Regions from separate parts of the Homo sapiens genome. Here region 1 is linked to region 2. The links come from fine-mapping of genetic effects on gene expression. A gene starts in region 2. The other region holds a variant in brackets. All regions are shown on one strand. Distances are between the middles of the regions.

What was found.
Region 1: its variant is fine-mapped to the expression of BST1 in whole blood (INTERVAL, PIP above 0.99).

Annotation. Positions count from the first base shown.
Region 1 is chr4:15,732,563-15,742,192 of GRCh38, forward strand. It overlaps BST1 (bone marrow stromal cell antigen 1), which reads left to right. Exons shown (of 9, transcript NM_004334.3): 9 at 1-225. Among named protein-coding and RNA genes, the nearest start is that of BST1, 34 kb to the left of the region's middle. The variant A/G (reference allele first, on the strand shown) is at 4,610.
Region 2 is chr4:15,697,673-15,707,302 of GRCh38, forward strand. It overlaps BST1 (bone marrow stromal cell antigen 1), which reads left to right and starts at 5,393. Exons shown (of 9, transcript NM_004334.3): 1 at 5,393-5,660; 2 at 7,843-7,969. The coding sequence starts at 5,473. RefSeq lists a silencer at 5,332-5,411.

The DNA.
Region 1 (9,630 bases), 35 kb after region 2:
CCACCTCAGCCTCCCAAAGTGCTAGGATTACAGGCGTGAGCCACCACATCCAGCCATAATAGTTACTTATAATGAGGGAAAAACCCAAAATATCCAGTAATATTTACATATTTACTGAAACTGTTTGGAACTTGTATTAGTTTGTTCTTGCATTGCTATAAAGAACTGCCCGAGACTGGGTAATTTACAAAAATAAAAATAAAAAAGAGGTTTAATTGACTCACAGTTCTGTGTCCAGAATTGTGACAAAATTGTGACAACCTCTGGGTTTTTGGTCTTGCTGACTTCAAGAATGAAGCCATGGACTTTTGCAGTGAGTGTTACAGCTCTTAAAGATGGTGTGTTCAGAGTTTGTTCCTTCAGATGTGTCTGGAGTTTCTTCCTTCTGGTGGGTTCGTGGTCTCGCTGACTTCAAGAATGAAGCTGCGGACCTTCGCGGCAAGTGTTACAGCTATTAAAGGTAGTGCGGACCCAAAGAGTGAGCAGCAGCAAGATTTATTGTGAAGAGCGAAAAAACAAAGCTTCCACAATGTGGAAGGGGACCCAAGCTGGTTGCCACTGCTGGCTCGGTGGCCAGCTTTTATTCCCTTATTTGGTCCCACCCACATCCTGCTGATTGGTCCATTTTACAGAGCGCTGATTGGTCCATTTTACAGAGTGCTGATTGATGCATTTACAATCCTTTAGCTAGACACAGAGTGCTGATTGGTGTGTTTACTATCCTTTAGCCGGACACAGAGTGCTGACTGGTGTGTTTTTACAGAGTGCTGACTGGTGCATTTACAATCCTTTAGCTAGACACAGAGTGCTGATTGGTGCGTTTACAATCCTTTAGCTGGACACAGAGTGCTGACTGGTGTGTTTTTACAGAGTGCTGACTGGTGCATTTACAATCCTTTAGCTAGACACAGAGTGCTGATCGGTGCATTTACAATCCTTTAGCTAGACAGAAAAGCTCTCCAAGTCCCCTCTCGACCTAGGAAGTCCAGCTGGCTTCACCTCTCTGTTCCACAGGCTTACAGGAAGCATGGCTGGGGAGGCCTCAGGAAACTTACGATCATCATGGAAGGCAAAAGGGAAGCAGTCATGTCTTACATGGCCAGAGAAGGAGGAAGGGAGTGAAGGGGGAGGTGCTACATGCTTTCAAACCACCAGATCTCGTGAGAACTCTGTCATGAGACAGCACTAGGTGATGGTGCTAAACCATCCGAAACCACCTCCGTGATCCAATCACCTCCCACCAGACCCCACCTTCAACACTGGGGATCACAATTCAATATGAAATTTAGGTGGGGATACAGAGCCAAACCATATCAGAACTATTTACATGGGTTTTAGAATATTTGTAGAATGGAGTATCATTCAACAAGTAAAAGCCATGTTTACCAATTCACATGTCCTTCAGATGGTGAAGGAATAAACTAACTGGTAAATCTACACCATGGAATACTACTCAGCAATAAAGGTAACTACCTTGATATATGCAGCAATATGGATGAAACCCAAATGTGAGAGCTGCCGCACCAAAAGGCCACCAACTGTATGATTCTATTTATATGACATCCTCGAGAAGGCAGAACTATAGTAGCGGAGAGCAGACCAGTGATTGTGGGGGTTGAGAATGATCAGGACTAGAAGGAGGCGCTGACTGCAAAGTGACACTGAGAAAAATTTTGGGAGCGATGGAGCTGCTCTGTGTCTTGATTGTGGTGGTGATTGCATGAATCCAAGTGTTCGTCAACACTCATGGCCCTGTACATGAAAAAGAGTAAATTTTATTTTATGTAAACCAAAAAGAAATGTTTTCAAAGAACATTTAATCACATAGGAAAATGTGTAAGAGATAAAATATAAAACTTAATTATATGATGAAAATGTCTAAAGTATGATACAAATTTAATATATTAAAATATAATATATATACGGGAAATCATTCTCAAAATTGTCTCCTCCACCAGTCGACTAAACTTAGGGGTTTACATAGCAGGAAGGAAATGTAACTATATGTGAGAAAACAGGAATGGGGGAGGGGTAAGGAAGAGAAGCTGCTAAACAGGAGTCATGATGGATGAAGGGTCTGGCATCTAATTGTGTGGATGTGGTGGTCTGGTGAGTTTCGGTTCCTTGATACTAACTGGTTGCCTAAGGGTCAGTTTCCTGAAGAAGGAATTCAGATAAGACAAATGTAAGTTTCAATCTTAGATGAGAGGGTCAATTTTCATGTTTATCCAAAAAACAGTAGACATCACTTCTCTGGGACAGCTGGGCTGGTTTCAGTCGGACACTGCCACAGGGAGCAGGCAGGAGCGGGAACCAGGCCACGCTCAGAAGGGTTAAGGAAAGAGACTTTGGGAAGTGAGACTGCAGAGGAATGAAATCCATGAAAACCTGGCATGGTAGAATGTTCATTTGGTGTAGACACTGGTGTGTATTGTAAAAGCGGTATTAGCTTCTTACAGAAGGTGTGCTCAGCTGGGCTCCTCTAACCAAGTTGCTTGGTGCTCTACCCAGACGTGCTCTCTACTCTCTCCCTCCTCAGGGTCTTTGAACATGTTGGTCTCTCTGTGTTGATTTTCCTTCCTGCCCTGTCTCCCATCTGGCAGACTCTAAGACATACCTTAAGCATCACCTCCTCCCTGGATCCTTCTGTTGACCTCTCTCCCTGCAAAAAAGCAAAGAATTCCCTAACAGGGCCCATCTTCATGGTGTCAGCATTGTTTGGGTCCTTGCCTAACTTCACCCTGGGACTGTGGCTTCTTTGCAGACTCACTCATCTTTGCAGCCCTAGCCTAGCCCTGCTTGGATGAAGTAGACCTTCCACGTGTGAATGAACTAAGTTTAATAGAGGAAAACAGAGGGTGGGGGATTCTTTAGCTTTCTTTTGTTGGAGGAGGCCAGGGAGGGTACAAGGGAAGCTTAATAACAAGGTGTGGCATGCTTTTCTGTATTTATGGCATACTTTCATAAAACACTTGAAGTGTGTGATATTGCTAGGGTGTGTGAGGGGAGCCGTGAGGGAAGATGACAAGCAGCATAAGACTTTTGGGTACTTAGAGAAAGAGAAAAGGACCCAACCAACCAACTTCCAATTCATAATTCATGGTTTGTCTCAGGACCGTCTGGCTCCTTAGGCCAATCCCATGGGAGCCCCAGCCAAGGGGCGTCTCTTAGACCAAGCTTGGAAAACACAGTGTCTGCTGCCTTCATGTTGCCTGGGTTACCAGGCGACTTAGCCACTCACAGCACAGTGACCTGCGACTCAATTAGAGAAATGCCATTTTGAGTTCCATAAGAAAAATAAGGCTTTATTTTTAAAAACTAAACATAACTTCACTTTTTTCCCGAATATAAGAGTAATAATGGCTCTTTACTTGAAAAAAATCTACACAATACAGAAAAATTAGGAAGAAGGCAAATCTCATCTGTCATACTGCACGCAGAGTAGCAGACATTTTTCTATGTGTTTTTATGCACATATTTATATTTATAGACCCAAGAGGCTATGTGGGACATTAGGAGTGCGACCCAGAGCAGAACCATACAACCGCCGGTTCTAGCCTTTGTACAAGGTAAATCATGGGTTTCAAACATATCATTGCCTCCTGACTGATCTCTCTGCTTCTGCTTGGTTTCTCCTTCAGCCTAACTTCCACAATGCTGCCAGAGCAATGTCCTACGCTAGGGTCCTGAGTGCATCGTCCTCTTGCTCAAAATCAGCAATGGTTTCCTACCCTTGGCAAGACAAATTTCAAATTTTAAAATCTGCTCTTCAAGAAGCCGGGCGCAGTGGCTCCTGCCTATAATTCCAGCACTTTGTGAGGCCAAGGTGGGCAGATCACTTGAGGTCAGGAGCCCTGGACAACATGGTGAAACCCTGTATGTACTAAAAATACAAAAATTAGCTGGGCGTGGTGGCACGTGCCTGTAATCCCAGGTACTCTGAAGGTTGAGGCAGGAGAACTGCTTGAACCAAGGACACAGAGGTTGCAGTGAGCCTAGATTGCTCCACTGCACTCCAGCCTGGGTGATAGAGTGAGACTCTGTCTCCAAAAAAAAAAAAAAATCTGCGATTCAAGATCTTTCCATTTGCCCCTAAACTGCCTTACTAGGTCTGTGTCCCAGGAGACCCCACTGCACTCTCCATGAACCTTCTCTCAGTTCCGTATTCTCAACATAAGCCTTTGGATCTGGTACCTTTGCTCACCTCCTCCTCGAAGCCTTACTTAGTTCCAGATCCATTTGTTTTTATGTCTCTCTCTCTTGAGGACAGCAACTTTACCTCTTTGTCTTTGTGTCTGTCATAATGCTTTACCCTGACCAGCCATGACCTAGTCAGCATTTGATCAGATTGGGTGAGAACCTTGGGTTTGGGGAATCAAGACAAAGGAAATGGGGAGGCAGCCTAACATTGTGGCCAAGAGCATGGACTCTGGCACCTAACAGGTTGGCCCACATCCTACCTTCAGCACTTGCTCGCTGTGTAGCCTTGGGCAACTCACTTACCTTACCTGAGCTGCATCACCGTGTGTGTAAGTAGGGATTATAAGTACTCATAATTCAATGAGCGAATGTGCATAAAGAACCCAGAACAGTGCCAGGAGTATAGTAG[A/G]TCAGCCCTGTATAAGTGTTATTTGCTAGTGTTATTGTTACTACTACTAGAGTTGTTTGATAGCTGTCTAAACACCATCTGCAATACAGCACTCTCTGCAGATCAGAAGTTACTGTGCACTGGGCACTGTGTGAAGTATTTTCATAAATGGCCCCTTTCAATCCTCACTCGACCCCATAGGATCAATTCTCTTATTATCCTATTTTACAGATGAGAAAACATAGACATAGAAAGCTTTTCTTACTTGGCCAAGGTCACCTCTCTTGGCCTCGGTTCCTCCATGGTCTGGGCAGCAAGGGGGCAGCAGGGAGCCCTGGCAAAAGCAGCTAAGAAAACCAGCCTCGTGTGTCTTCAACAAACAGGTCCCAGCACCAGCTCCATGCCTGGCACACTTAATGGGTACTTAATGCTCTTCTACCAAGTGAATGAACAATGCTAAGCATTTGACCAAAAGAGAAATGCACATGGAAGACCCCTGAGCACAAGGACTGGGTGGGCACATGAAGAACTGAGTTCTCTTTCCTCTCCTGTCGTAGGTACCAGGTACCTTACACTTGGCTGTATTCCCTCTAGCACGATAGACTTGGTAACAAGGTACTTTCTGAACCTGAACAGGAAACTGTGGGAACCATGATGGGGAAGATACTGACTGTCAGAGAGTCCAAAGATGTAAATGCCTTCCACTCCCACAGCAAGGAAGCCGAAATCTCCAGAGGCTCTGGCAAGAGTTGAGTCAATTGCATGCCTGCCTAGTCCAGCTCCGTCCACATGAATGCTCTCCACAAGCTTCAGAGGAAACAGGATAAAATGGACTCCCAAATATTTAGGGTGGTGAAAATACTCTGCATGATACTAGAATTGTGGATACAGGTGATTATATATGTGTCCAAACCTACAGAAGGTACAACACCAAGGGTGAACCCTCAGGTAAACTACAGAGGCTGGGTGACCATGATGTTTCAATGTCGGTTCATTAGTTGTGACAAATGCACCACTCCACCACTCTGGTGGGGATGCTGCCAGTGGGGGAGGCTATGTATGTGTGGGGACAGAGCGTATGTGGGAAGCTCTGTACTTTCTGCTCAAATTTGCTGTGAACCTAAAACTGCTCTAAACATTAAAGCCTATTCAAAAAAATGAAAGCCTAATTTGAAAAGGAATTTCAGACACTTGGGAAAAAGAATAATGACGTCTATAAGTCATTCTTTGATAAGAGAGTCGGTCAGTCTGGTGTGTCTAGTAAGGTAGCAGAGGGACATTCACAAAGACCGGAGAATACAAAGATGTTAAACAGGGTGAGGAGTCTATGATGTTGGTCAGTATAAAAGGAGAAAAAGATCCTAAAAACATTCCTAAATATTGTTTGATTTAAAAATATATGTTGGAAGGCAAGAGAGTTTGATAAAAAAATAAAAATAAAAATAAAAAACCTTGATGGGAAGTGGGAATGACCACACGTTAGCCAGCTGATAGCTTACCTGTTTGAAGTTCAGCTTCCACACGATTGTTACAGACGGAACTGTGTTCCCTCAAATTCATAGTTCGTTATGGCCACCCTGGTAAGCTAACACAACAATGAAAATTTCCAAAGTAAAGACTAGAAGCAGGCATGTGCCAAGTGAACACTAGCTTTTTTTATTTCTCCTGCTGTGAAAATTGAGGTTTGCCAAAGGTGCCAAATGAACATGGCTGATTGAGAAGTAATCCCAGTTCCACTAACCTGAGAGACAGCCCAGGCAAGCGGACCTAGCTCCTAATGCTCATTTCCATTTCAGTCTTTCTGAAGTTTCCCAGGGTGAGAAAGTGGAACTCAGGACAATGAATCATCATTGGAGACTCTGCAGTTGCTAGAACTTAATTCACAGGCATTTGAAACCCAGAACTCAGCCTTACTCTTCTCAGGAGACTTTTGGCACCAAAGAGAAGGGCAAATTGAAAGCCCATGCTGGAGAACAGGGCACAGCTATTGCTGAGACTGGGAGCTTGTTTTTAAAGACCTGGCAAGGGTTTCAAACACCCACATGCATAACCAATGAAGCAGGTTGGAAAATCTGAACTATGCTAATTTCACCATAATTACTCATTACTTGAAGTCTTATGTATTTGTGTTTTCTTGGTAGTCTCTTTAAAACATGTTTCAATATGAAACGTATATGTATTAAATCACTCCGCTTAGAATTTTAGGAATATAGTTTTGTTTTTCCCCCTAAAAGATGTAGAATGCAGCAGGTTCTCTAAAGCACATGTATTCTTTGTTACGTGATTTGGTTCTTTGGAACTTCTTTTATCATGTAGCTATTAAAGGGTAGCTGTCAGAATTACCCAAACTCTTCACTGAAATGACTTACTTATTTGAGAAAAATGCATGTTAAGAAGCCAAACCGTGTGTGTGTGTGTGTGTGTGTGTGTGTGTGTGTGTGTGTATTTCTCCCCTGCACAAAAGTAGAAGGGTTTTCATTTGACTTGTGCCAGCTGCACCTTCATGACTTTGCTATAGGACATGTGACACAGTAACTCTAAGATGGTGCTTGTAAAATTTTAAAATAGTTAACATACAGTGACAAGCTCTCAGGGGAACACATTAAACTCGATTAAATTTTGTAGGGTAAAAAGATGTGTACAGAAATATAATCAGAGTGAAGTCATTGTTCACCATTGCTGCTAGTAATAAAATTTGGTGGTAGGAGGGGGAAGGAGAAAGGGAGGGAGGGAAGTCGGTGAGAGAGAGAAAAGGAGAGGGAGACATTGACAGAGAGAGAGACAGACAGACAGAGAAACAGAGAGAGACAGAGAAAGAGAGGGAAGAAGGGAGAGAGAGAGAGATAAGGATAGAGAGAGACAGGGAGAGAGTGTATCTCCTGATCCTCACTGGCTGATAACTAAATTAGTTGGGGGCAGGGGGGACTGAATCTCGTTCTGTCACCGAGGCTGGAGTGCAGTGGCACCGTCTCGTCTCACTGCAACGTCTGCCTCCCAGGTTCAAGTGATTCTCATGCCTCGGCCTCCCTAGCAGCTGGGACTACAGGCACACGCCACTATGCCTGGCTAATTTTTTGTATTCTTTTTGCTAGAGACGGGGTTTTGCCATGTTGACCAGGCTGGTCTCAAACTTCTAACCACAGTGATCTGCCCGCCTTGGGTTCCCAAAGTGCTAGGATTATAGGCATGAGCCACCATGTCGGGCCTAAATTAGTAGTTATTATCTACTTTCATTTGTGGGATGAAGATGAAACAGAGTCCTTTGGGATTGTGCACTGGGGGAAACCTAACATAGTCTAGTATCGGGAGAGGAGGCTTTCCAGAGAAAGTCTTCCTTAAGTTGAACCTGAAAAAACGAGAGCTATTAGCCAGATGAGAGGTGAAGGTGTGAGGGGGTGGATTGGAAATATTTTCAGGTAGGGAGACTAATCTATACAAAGGTTTATGTTCTCAACTACTGAGTTTGTCTTCAGCATTTGCACCTTATTTAACAAATTTATTAATTTGTTAAATTATAACAAATATTTGACAGCAGAGCTGAGGATATTAAAATAAAATGTAATTTTATTTCTTATATGTTGGTGAAGAAGGAGCAGCAACAGAGGCTGGAGCATTATTTACAAGCCAAACTATCCGTCTGGAGATTCCCAGTGCAGCAACTGGGACGGGGACTACTGAATCCCTCAGATTTTAGGCCATAGGCCAATGAACATTTTCTGTAAAAGGTGAAGTAATACTTTTAGCTTTGCTGGCCATGCAACCTCTGTCGCAACTACTCAACTCCGTGGTTCGTGAGGGGTCCACAGGGTTCATTATCCGTCATGAACCGCAGAGTTGAGTAGTTGTGACAGAGGTTGCATATATTTACTCAGCCAATATTTACTGATGATATTGATTAGGAGTCTTGGGAAGAGCAGTGACAGTTTTTTTGGTATTATATCTAGCGACAAAAGATTGAATTTGGCCGTTACTCACTCCTCCTCCAACAAAGTTGTCAAACGGGGCTGCTACAGACAAGTAGAATCACAGATTGGAGATCAGCTGTCATTATGTAACAGCTGGATTGGCAGGCTTCCCTCTAGGGGCCATCCCTGTCTACAGCTAGAGTGGACAGGCCAGGGAGGACACCATACTTGGAGTAGAGTAACCTTGTCCAGGAGTAAAACATGGCCCGAGAATTCTGTGCTCCTAGCAATCCTATTATTATAGAAGTGCTTCCTGATAAGGGAGGAAGGGTAGGAAGAGGAAAGCTGAGGCAGATGGATGGGGAAAGTACTGAAACATTCTGTTCACATCCTCAATAACCTTCATGAAAAATCAGTCATAGATGCTGGAATCTCCAAACCTCCAAGGGGCTTACAACATTGTGTGCAGGGAAACCTCTAATTCACAGCCTTATTGAGAGCATGTGTCAATGGCCCATAGCAGGGGCCCATTCTGGCTTTTGTACAACCCCAAAGACACACGTGGGTTTTCCATTTTTAAATGGTTGAAAAAAATCAAAAGAAGAACATTATTTCATGGCGTCTGAAAACTACATGAAGCTCAAATTTTAGTGTATAAAGTTTTACTGGAACTCAGCCATGCTCATTAGTTTGTGCTTATCTATTCCGCTTCTGAGCTATTGCAGAGTTGAGCAGTGGCAACAGAGGTTGCATGGCCCGCAAAGCGAAAAGTATTATCTCACCTTTTACAGTAAATGTTCATTGGCTTATGGCCTAAAGTCTGAGGGATTCAGTAGTCCCTGTCCCAGTTGCTGCTCTGGGAATCTCCAGATGCATAATATGGTTGGTGCATAACGCCCCGGTCTCTGTTGCTGCTGCCTCCTTCACCAACATACAGTACAAACAAATAAAACTCCATTTTATTTTAACATGCTCAGCTCTGCTGCCAAAGCTGTGACAAGCCCAGAAGCAGTTTTTCAGGGTTTGAGATGGAGAAGAAGGTGGTCTCTTCTCTTGCTCATCAAGGAATCCTCTTTATTATTTAAGCCAGATTAAGTTTGCTATGGTTTGAATGTTTGTCCCTCCAAACTTCATGCT
Region 2 (9,630 bases):
GCATATATCCTTCCAGGTAGAAAATAGGAATATTAGGCCAGGCACAGTGGCTCACGCCTGTAATCCCAGCACTTTGGGAGGCTGAGGCGGGTGGATCACGAGATCGGGAGATCAAGACCATCCTGGCTAACATGGTGAATCCCCGTCTCTACTAAAAATACAAAAAAAATTAGCCAGGTGTGGTGGTGGGCGCCTGTAGTCCCAGCTACTTGGGAGGCTGAGGCGGGAGAATGGCATGAATCCAGGAGGCAGGGCTTGCAGTGAGCCGAGATCACGCCACTACACTCCAGCCTGGGCAACAGAGCGAGACTCTGTCTCAAAAAAAAAAAAAAAAAAAAAAAAAGGAATATTACTCTCTGGAAAAACGGACTGTCCAAGAGAAAATGACAGGTATCTCTTAGTGATAAAGTGCAGTATGTTCATCCTACAGGGCAGCCCACCCTTTGACAAACTCTGACCATTTGCCTTGAGCCTGCTTCTAATTAGTGCCTGATATGGTATGGCTGCGTCCCCAACCAAATCTCATCTTGAATTGTAGTTCCCACAATTCCCTCATGTCATATGAGGGACTCGGTGGGAGGTAATTGAATCATGGGGGTGGGTCTTTCCCATTCTCATAATAGTGAATAAGTTTCACAAGATCTGATGGTTTTATAAAGAGGAGTTCCCCTGCACAAGCTGTCTCTTGCCTACTGCCATGTAAGACGTGCCTGTTGCCTTCTGCCAAATTACCCAGTCTCAGGTATGTCTTTATCTGCAGTGCGACAATGAACTAATACTGTTCCTTATGTTTTTCTGTGTTTGTAAAAATAATCAGCCAAAGGTCATCAGTTTATTTGAGGGAAACTTCTCACATTAAAGCCAGTCACCAAAATGGAAATAAGGCACTCAAAGGAAACAGACATTGGCAGAAGAAAATTTAAAAGAAAAATGAAAAACCTACATCTGTAATAAAAGCCTCAGAAATATTCACAAAACAGCAAGAGAAGATTATAAAAAGCAAAAAGACCTGAACGTGTAGAACACAACTGTATATATAAGTATATATATATATATATATATATATATATATATATAGTATAAATTTAAAAAAGCAACAGAGAAGTTGGAAGATAATGATAAATTTATATTCAAGAAAGTATAAGAAGACAAAGAAAAAAGGTGAAAATATAGAAAATTAAAGACTAGGAAGTCTAACAAGGAAATCATTCCTATATGAGTAACAGGAATTTCAGAAAGAGAAAACAGAATTTGGAGGAGGGGAAATTACCAAAAAATTGAGAAAATATCTCAGTATTTAAAGACATGAGTTTGTAGGTTAAAAGGGCTCATGGATTGTCCAGTACAATGAAAAACAACTACTTTTGCCCAACTTCATCTCTGAAATTTCATACTCCTAAGAATAGAAGGAAATTCTGAAAATTTCCAGATAGAAAAAAAACAGGCCAAAGAATAAAAAACAAAACAAACAACAACAAAAAAGGTCAAATAAACAGGAATAGGAAAATGGGTTCAGATTTCTCAACAGCAACACAGAAAACAATGGAACACAGTCTTCAAAATTTTGAAGGGAAATGCTTTCCAATGCAAAAATGTACCCAACCAAATTCTCAATCAAGTGTGAGGTTAGAATAATGACACTTTGAATTCTTATGCAAAAATCTCAGACATCCAATCAAATTCTCAATTAAGTGTGAAGGTAGAATAATGACATTTTGAATTCTTATGCAAAAAATCTCAGAAAGTTTAGTCCCTGTGTATCTTCTCAAGAAGCTATTGGAAGATGTGCTCCATAAAACAAGAAAGAGGAGGATGTGAGATCTAGTTGTATTAGTTCGTTTTCATGCTGCTCATAAAGACACACCTGAAACTGGGAACAGAAAGAGGGTTAATTGGACTTACAGTTCTGCATGGCTGGGGAGGCCTCAGAATCATGGCATGAGGTGAAAGGCACTTCTTACATGGCAGCGGCAAGAGAAAAATGAGGAAGAAGCAAAAGTGGAAACACCTGATAAACCCATCAGATCTTGTGAGACTTATTCACTATCACCAGAATACCAGAATAGCATGGGAAAGACCGGCCCCCATGATTCAATTACTCCCACCCTGCCTCCCCACCCCCACCCCAACCTAGCTCTCTCCCACAACACGTGGGAATTCTGGGAGATACAATTCAAGTTGAGATTTGGGTGGGGACACAGCCAAACCATATCATTCCACCCCGGCCCCTCCAAATCTCACATCCTCACATTTCAAAACCAATCATGCCTTCTCAACAGACCCTCAAAGTCTTAACTTCAACATTAGCCCAAAAGTCCACAGTTCAAAGTTTCATCTGAGACAAGGCAAATGCCTTCTGCCTATGAGCCTGTAATATCAAAAGCAAGCTAGTTACTTTCTAGATAATGATTACCTCCAGGGTAAACAAGAGGTTTACAACAAATAAAATGTCATAATGTCCCAAACAGAATAATGTCCCAAACAGAAACATCAAGAAATAGCATATAGGTATTGTATTAGTCTGTTCTTGCATTGCTATAGATACCTGAAACTGCTCATTTATAAGAAAAAGAGGTTGAATTGGCTCACAGTTCTGCAGGCTGTAGGAAGCATAGTGGCTTCTGCATCTGGAGAGGCTTCAGGAAGTTTCCAAATGTGGTGGAAGGCAAAGGGGGAGCAATGGGTCTTACACGGTGGCAGCAGGGAGCAAGAGAGAGGGAGGAGGTGCTACACACTTCTTTTTTTTTTTTTTTTGAGACAGAGTCTCACTCTGTCACCAGGCTGGAGTGCAGTGGTGAGATCTCAGCTCACTGCAACCTCCGCCTCCCAGGTTCAAGCGATTCTTCTGCCTCAGCCTCCCGAAGAGCTGGGACTACAGGTGCGTGCCACCACGCCCAGCTAATTTTTGTATTTTTAGTATAGATGGGGTTTCACCATGTTGGCCAGGATGGTCTCGATCCGTGATTCCCAACACACCCCCCACACCAGCCTCCCAAACTGCTGTGATTACAGGTGTGAGCCACGGCGCCCTGCCAGTGCTACACAGTTTAAAACAACCAGATCTCACTTACTATCATGAGAATAGCAACAAGGGGATGGTGCTAGACTATTCTTGAGAAACCCACACCCATGATAAAATCACCTCCCACCAGGCCCCACCTCCAACGTTGGGGATTACAATTTCACATTAGATTTGGTGGGACGAGCCATGCCAGGGATGCCCCAAAATTACTAAACTAAAGGGAAAAGTCAGGCTGGGAACTGCTCAGGGCAAACTTGCCTCCCATTCTATTCAAAGTCATTCAGCTGCTCACTGAGATATATGCATATTCTGATGGCCTTCTTTGGAAAGGCTTATCAGAAACTCAAAAGAAGGCAACCATTTGTCTCTCACCTACCTGAGACCTGGAAGCCCCCTCCGTGCTTCGAGTTGTCCCCGCCTCTCTGGACAGAACCAATGTACTTCTTACATATATTGATTGATATCTCATGTCTCCCTAAAATGTATAAAACCAAGCTGTGCCCTGACCACCTTGGGTACATGTCGTCAGGACTTCCTGAGGTTGTGTCATGGACACGTGTCCTCAACCTTGCTAAAATAAACTTTCTAAATTAATTGAGACCTGTCTCAAAATTTGCGGGTTCACACATGTTATTTAGAAATATGGAAGTAAACACAGGAACAAAACTTGAAAGAATTAAAAATGCTTTCCTCTGGAAAGTGGATTTAACTTAAGGAGGAACTGAACAGGAGAATGCGGGTTTTGGTTACAGAAAAAAAGAGATTCAAATAAAACAGTAGAGAACACCTGTTCTGTCCTCCCTTGTGTTTATCAAGTGCTTGCCAGGCACTCAAAGTTCATTGCTGTCATTATTGTAAGAATTGAGGACTTGGGCCTCCACGTGGTATTCTATTAATACTGGCTCTTTTTTTTTTTTTTTTTGAGACGGAGTCTCACTCTGTTGCCCAGACTGGAGTGCAGTGGCCCGATCTCGGCTCACTGCGAGCTCTGCCTCCTGGGTTCACGCCGTTTTCCCGCCTCAGCCTCCCGAGTAGCTGGGACAACAGGCGCCCGCCACCGCGCCTGGCTAATCTTTTGTATTTTTAGTAGAGACGGGGTTTCACCGTGTTAGCAAGGATGGTCTCGATCTCTTGACCTCGTGATCCACCCGCCTCGGCCTCCCAAAGTGCTGGGATTACAGGTGTGAGCCACCGCGCCCGGCCAATCCTGGCTCTCTTAAACTGAACATCTCCAGGATTTTGCATCTATCAGGAAGGGATATTGTGACCTCTGACAAGTTACAGTCGGCGGTAGGTATCCATGGAGAATTGGTTCCAGGAACCTCCTGGATACCAAAATCCACAGATGCTCAAGGCCCTTATATTAAATGGTGTAGTATACAGTATTTGCACATCCTCTTCTATAATTCACGTCATCTCCAGATTCCTTGTAATATCAAGTACTATGTAATTGTTACATAAGTAGTTGTTACATTGGATTATTTAGGGAATGATGACAAGGAAAAAAAAGTCCGTACATGTTCCGTACAGATGCAAGCATTCTTTTTTTCCTCAAATGTTTCTCATCCGTGGTTAGCTGAATTTGGATGATGAATCCGCAAATCTGGAGGGCCGAACATGCTTAACTTCCCTGAGTTTATCCATTGCTAAAGCGAGAGAAATTACAAACTTAGCTAGGAAGGGTGTTGCGGAAAGTAATTAATATTATACTTGCAAAGTGCTTGGCACGTTGTTGTGGTTATTATTTCCTGAAAACAAACAAACACCACTTATTGGTTGGTGTGAAAGAGGGCATCTGTCAAAGTTGTCGTCCTTTGGAGCCAGAAAAGTATTTCTTCTGATGATGACTGACCTCTCCTCACCTCTCCTTCAACCTTGCGGCTTCTTTGGGGCTCCCTCCCCGTGGACAGCGGTCAAGATTAGCCTGGGCCACAGTGCACTGGTCCTGTCCTGGGTGATGTTCCAAGCTCACTCTTTTTTAATTTTATTTATTTATTAATTTTTTTTTTAGACAGAGTCTCACTCTGTCGCCCAGGGCTGGAGTGCAGTGGTGCAATCACTGCTCGCTGCAGCCTCGATCCCCTGGGGTCAAGCCTCCTCACATCTCACCTCGCAGGTAGCTGAGACTACAGATGCGCACCACCAGGACCAGCTAAGTTTTGTATTTTTTTGTAGAGAGGAGGTTTCTCACCTGTATGTTACTCAGGTTTGTCTCGAACTCCTATACTCAAGCGATCCGCCCGTCTAGGCCTCTCAAAGTGCTGGGATTACAGGCATGAGCCGCCGCGCCCCGCCCCACGCTCAGTCTTGAAATTGTCTGGAACGGGAAACGGCAAACAGCGAGATATCCGAGCGAGAGTCCCGCCCTGCATCAGTTTGCGGAACCGCCTTGGTAGAAGGAGAGAAGGGGAGTGGAGGAAGCACGGGACTGGAGGGACCAAAGTTCCCCGATGGCGGCCCAGGGGTGCGCGGCATCGCGGCTGCTCCAGCTGCTGCTGCAGCTTCTGCTTCTACTGTTGCTGCTGGCGGCGGGCGGGGCGCGCGCGCGGTGGCGCGGGGAGGGCACCAGCGCACACTTGCGGGACATCTTCCTGGGCCGCTGCGCCGAGTACCGCGCACTGCTGAGTCCCGAGCAGCGGTGAGGCAGTCGGCCGGGTGGAAGGGGAGCCGGAAAGAGGCAACGGTGGGGAGGGCCTGGGGAGGGGAAAACTGGCGCTAAAGTTCGGGGTGAGGGGGCAATGAGAGAGGCCTTGAGGGGAGAGGTGAGTGTGGAGACAGCGATGGTCCTGAACGATGGGGGCGAGTGAGGAGGGGGCTGTGAAGTGTGTCTGCAGGTGAGGGGTGCGCTGTGCGGGGTCTAGAGATGAGTGTGTGTGTGTGCGCGCACACACACACTGTAGAGGTGAGGGGTGTGTGCGTGTGTTCTAGAGGTGAGGGGGGTGTGTGTGTGCGCGCGCTCTAGAGGTGGGAGGTGTGTGTGTGCTCTAGAGGTGGATGTGTGTGTGTGTGCTCTAGAGGTGGGGGTGTGTGTGTGTGTGTGTGCTCTAGAGGTGAGGGGTGTGTGTGTGTGTTCTAAAGGTGAGATGTGTGTGTGTGTTCTAGAGGTAAGGGGTGTGTGTGTTCCAGAGGTGAGGTGTCTGTATGTGTGTTCTAGAGGTGAGGGGTGTGTGCATGTGTGTTCTAGAGGTGAAGGGGGTGTGTGTGCGTGCGCTCTAGAGGTGAGGGGTGTGTGTATTCTAGAGGTGAGGGGTGTGTGTGTTCTAGAAGTGAGGGGTGTGTGTGTTCTGGAGGTGAGATGTGTGTGTGTGTGTTCTAGAGGTGAGGGGTGCGTGCATGTGTTCTAGAGGTGTGTGTGTATCTGTGTTCTAGAGGTGAGGGGTGTGTGTGTGTAGTCTAGAGGTGACAGGTGTGTGTGTGTGGTCTATAGGTGAGGGATGTGTGTGTGGTCTAGAGGTGAGGGATGTGTGTGTGGTCTAGAGGTGAGGGGTGTGTGTGTTCTAGAGGTGAGGGGGTGTATGTGTATTCTAGAGCTGAGGAGAGTGTGTGTTCTAGAGATGAGGTGTGTATGTGTGTTCTAGAGGTGAGGGGTGTGTGTGTGTTCTGGAGTTGAGGGGTGTGTGTTCTAGAGGTGAGATGTGTGTGTTCTAGAGATGATGGGTGTGTGTGTTCTAGAAGTGAGAGGTGTGTGTGTTCTAGAGGTAAGGGATGTGTGTGTGTGTGTGTTCTAGAGGTGAGTTGTGTGTGTGTTCTAGAGGTGAGATGTGTGTGTGTTTGTTCTAGAGGTGAGGGGTGTGTGTGTGTAGTCTAGAGGTGACAGGTGTGTGTGTGTGGTCTATAGGTGAGGGATGTGTGTGTGGTCTAGAGGTGAGGGATGTGTGTGTGGTCTAGAGGTGAGAGGTGTGTGTGAGTGTGAAGGAGGGTGGAGAGGTATCCCTCTAGAAGTGAGGGTGGGGTAGAGGTGAACTGGGTAACAGCCCATTGCCACCCAGCAGATGTTTAGTCTGAATACTCAGAACCCAGAATGTGATCTCAGGTTGGAATTCCTTGAGTCCAGTCCTTCCAGAATTCAAATTTCAGATCCCCTAAATCTGGAGGATTTCTGAAGTTTGGGTCTTTCTTGCCAGTGCTGCATTTCTTACTGATTTTTGTTCCTTCTGTGGCCCCCCTTTTCTTATGTTTGTGATGTCTTTCTTGTGCTGATCATTTTTATTGTCGCACATTTCAGGCAAATAAGAAACAGCAGAGAACCACCTGTGTTACACACCACCCAGTATGAGAAACAAAGTTACAAATGCTATGGGAAATATTTTTTGAAAACTAGCATGGACCTCAAGAGGGGCTTGCACTGGAGGGTGCACCTGCTTTGCCAGAGGTGGAAGCCTTTTGCAGCATTGGGCCTCCCTCCTAACACTACACATCCTGCTGGCTGGCCTGGCCTCACCTGGTCCCCGAGCTCCACACTGGAACTGGACTATGAGACTGGCCCCACCGTTAGGTCTAAATGAAGAGGCACCTGCTGTATAGTTGACTGAATTTGTCACCTCCTGCTCGGTGCCATTTCTGCTTGTCTCCGTGAGCCTGGGGCAAGGCTGTATTCCTTAGCTCTGAGAAATCTGTGCAGTGCCTTCAGAGAGACAATTCCAGTGTCAGATTTCTGAATCTGTCACCTAAGCCATGACAATTCGTTGTCTTTTTTGTAAGCCTACTTCTGCAGTTACTATATGAAAAATCTCTTGTAAAGCTCTTAGACAAATGGGCATACTTCACAACACATTATGATGTGCATGTGTGTGTTCTTCCCAACTTGTACTTTTGCACAGGAACAAGAACTGCACAGCCATCTGGGAAGCCTTTAAAGTGGCGCTGGACAAGGATCCCTGCTCCGTGCTGCCCTCAGACTATGACCTTTTTATTAACTTGTCCAGGCACTCTATTCCCAGAGATAAGGTAACACCACAACCATCTTGGGTAAAACTGTGTTCTCTGTCTCTACAGAAATGGATGGTGCATGGGCCAGGTTGACATTAGCTGTCCCCTGCATCCTGCAATGTCACAGAAACATCAGGCAGCACACATAATGTGTGTGCTGAGCTCTCTGTGGGAAGCTAGCTTTGTTTCTGTATTAGTCCGTTGTCACATTGCTATAAAGAAATGCCTGAGACTGGGTAATTTACAAAGAAAAGAGGTTTAACTGGTTCACAGTTCCACAGGCTGTACAGGAAGAATGGCAACATCTACTTCTGGGAGGCCTCTGGGAGCTTTTACTTCAGCAGAAGGCAAAGTGGGAGCAGGTGTCTTACATGGCACGAGCAGGACCAAGGGCAGAGGGAGGTGCCACAGGCTTGTAAACAACTGGATCTTCTGAGAACTCCCTCAGGAGAACAGCAGCAAAGGGGGAAATCCACCCCCATAATCCAATCACCTCACACCAGGCCCCACCTCCAACATAGGGGATTACAATTTTACAAGAGACACAAATCCAAATCATATCAGTTTCCAATAGTGATTGTAGATCTCCCGCTGGTTGTGGGCAGAAGAAAATTTCCTAAGTTAGCAAGTTAGTGTGAGAATCAACATGAGGACATCAGGACATGGCCATACCTGTCACACTGGGCCTCCACATCTGGCCAGTTCTAAATAACCTTCATCCTAACTGGCCCAATGGCCTGAACCTTGAGTAATTCAGAAAACTCTCAATCTCAGTATCCTCCCGGGAGACCAGTCTCTCCATTTAACGGGTCTTAAGATTATATTTATTTAGTACCAGTTTATTTAAGAAAACCACATATCTATATTCTGTATACACTCTCAGGTCTAATAAAATGAAAATAATGAGAAAATTTCCATAAAACCCTTGCTTAAAACAATACCTCAAGTTTAAGGAATGCTAGACACCATTTTTGTTTCTGTGACATAAACATTGTTAACCTGATTTTTTCCATTGTGTGTTATTTGTAAAGGCAAGTAAATGGAACTGTGAGGTTCAAAGATAGAATAGACTGAAAACATGATTTTTGAGTATATGCTGTCTTTTGAACCTTGCTGCCCTCCTGTCACTAAAAGTGGGGAAGCTGACTTTTTAACCTTCTGTTTCATAGATTCGGTGCTAGTTGATGAACTCAGTAAATACTTCCGGGGCTATTTGTTTGCCAGTCATTGGTGCTAAGGGTTAAGGATGTAACAGTGAAAAACAGCCCTCACCCTTGGGGACCTTCTAGTCTAAATATAAACTGATTGGACTACTGAGGGTCAGATGAAATAGTGACTGGGGGATTTGTGTTATTGTTATATAAAAACACTATGGTGGAAACTATAAAGTATAATATAAAAGCAATGTGTTTTTGAGGCACTTGACACTTTAGGAAGTGCTTTTTGTGACTGCTTATTATCCTGGCCACAGCTCTGGAAGAAGAGAAAGGGCTCATGCTCTGCATTTTCCAGAAGTAGAAACTGAGAAACAGGGAGATTGCATGCCTTGCTCAAGATTACATATCTAATACATGACAGAGCCAGGATTCCAGCCCAGTTCCCTTGATCATTTTTAATGTAGGGGATCTTACCACATGCACGTATATTTAGTACTAGTGAGAAAATATTCCATTAACATT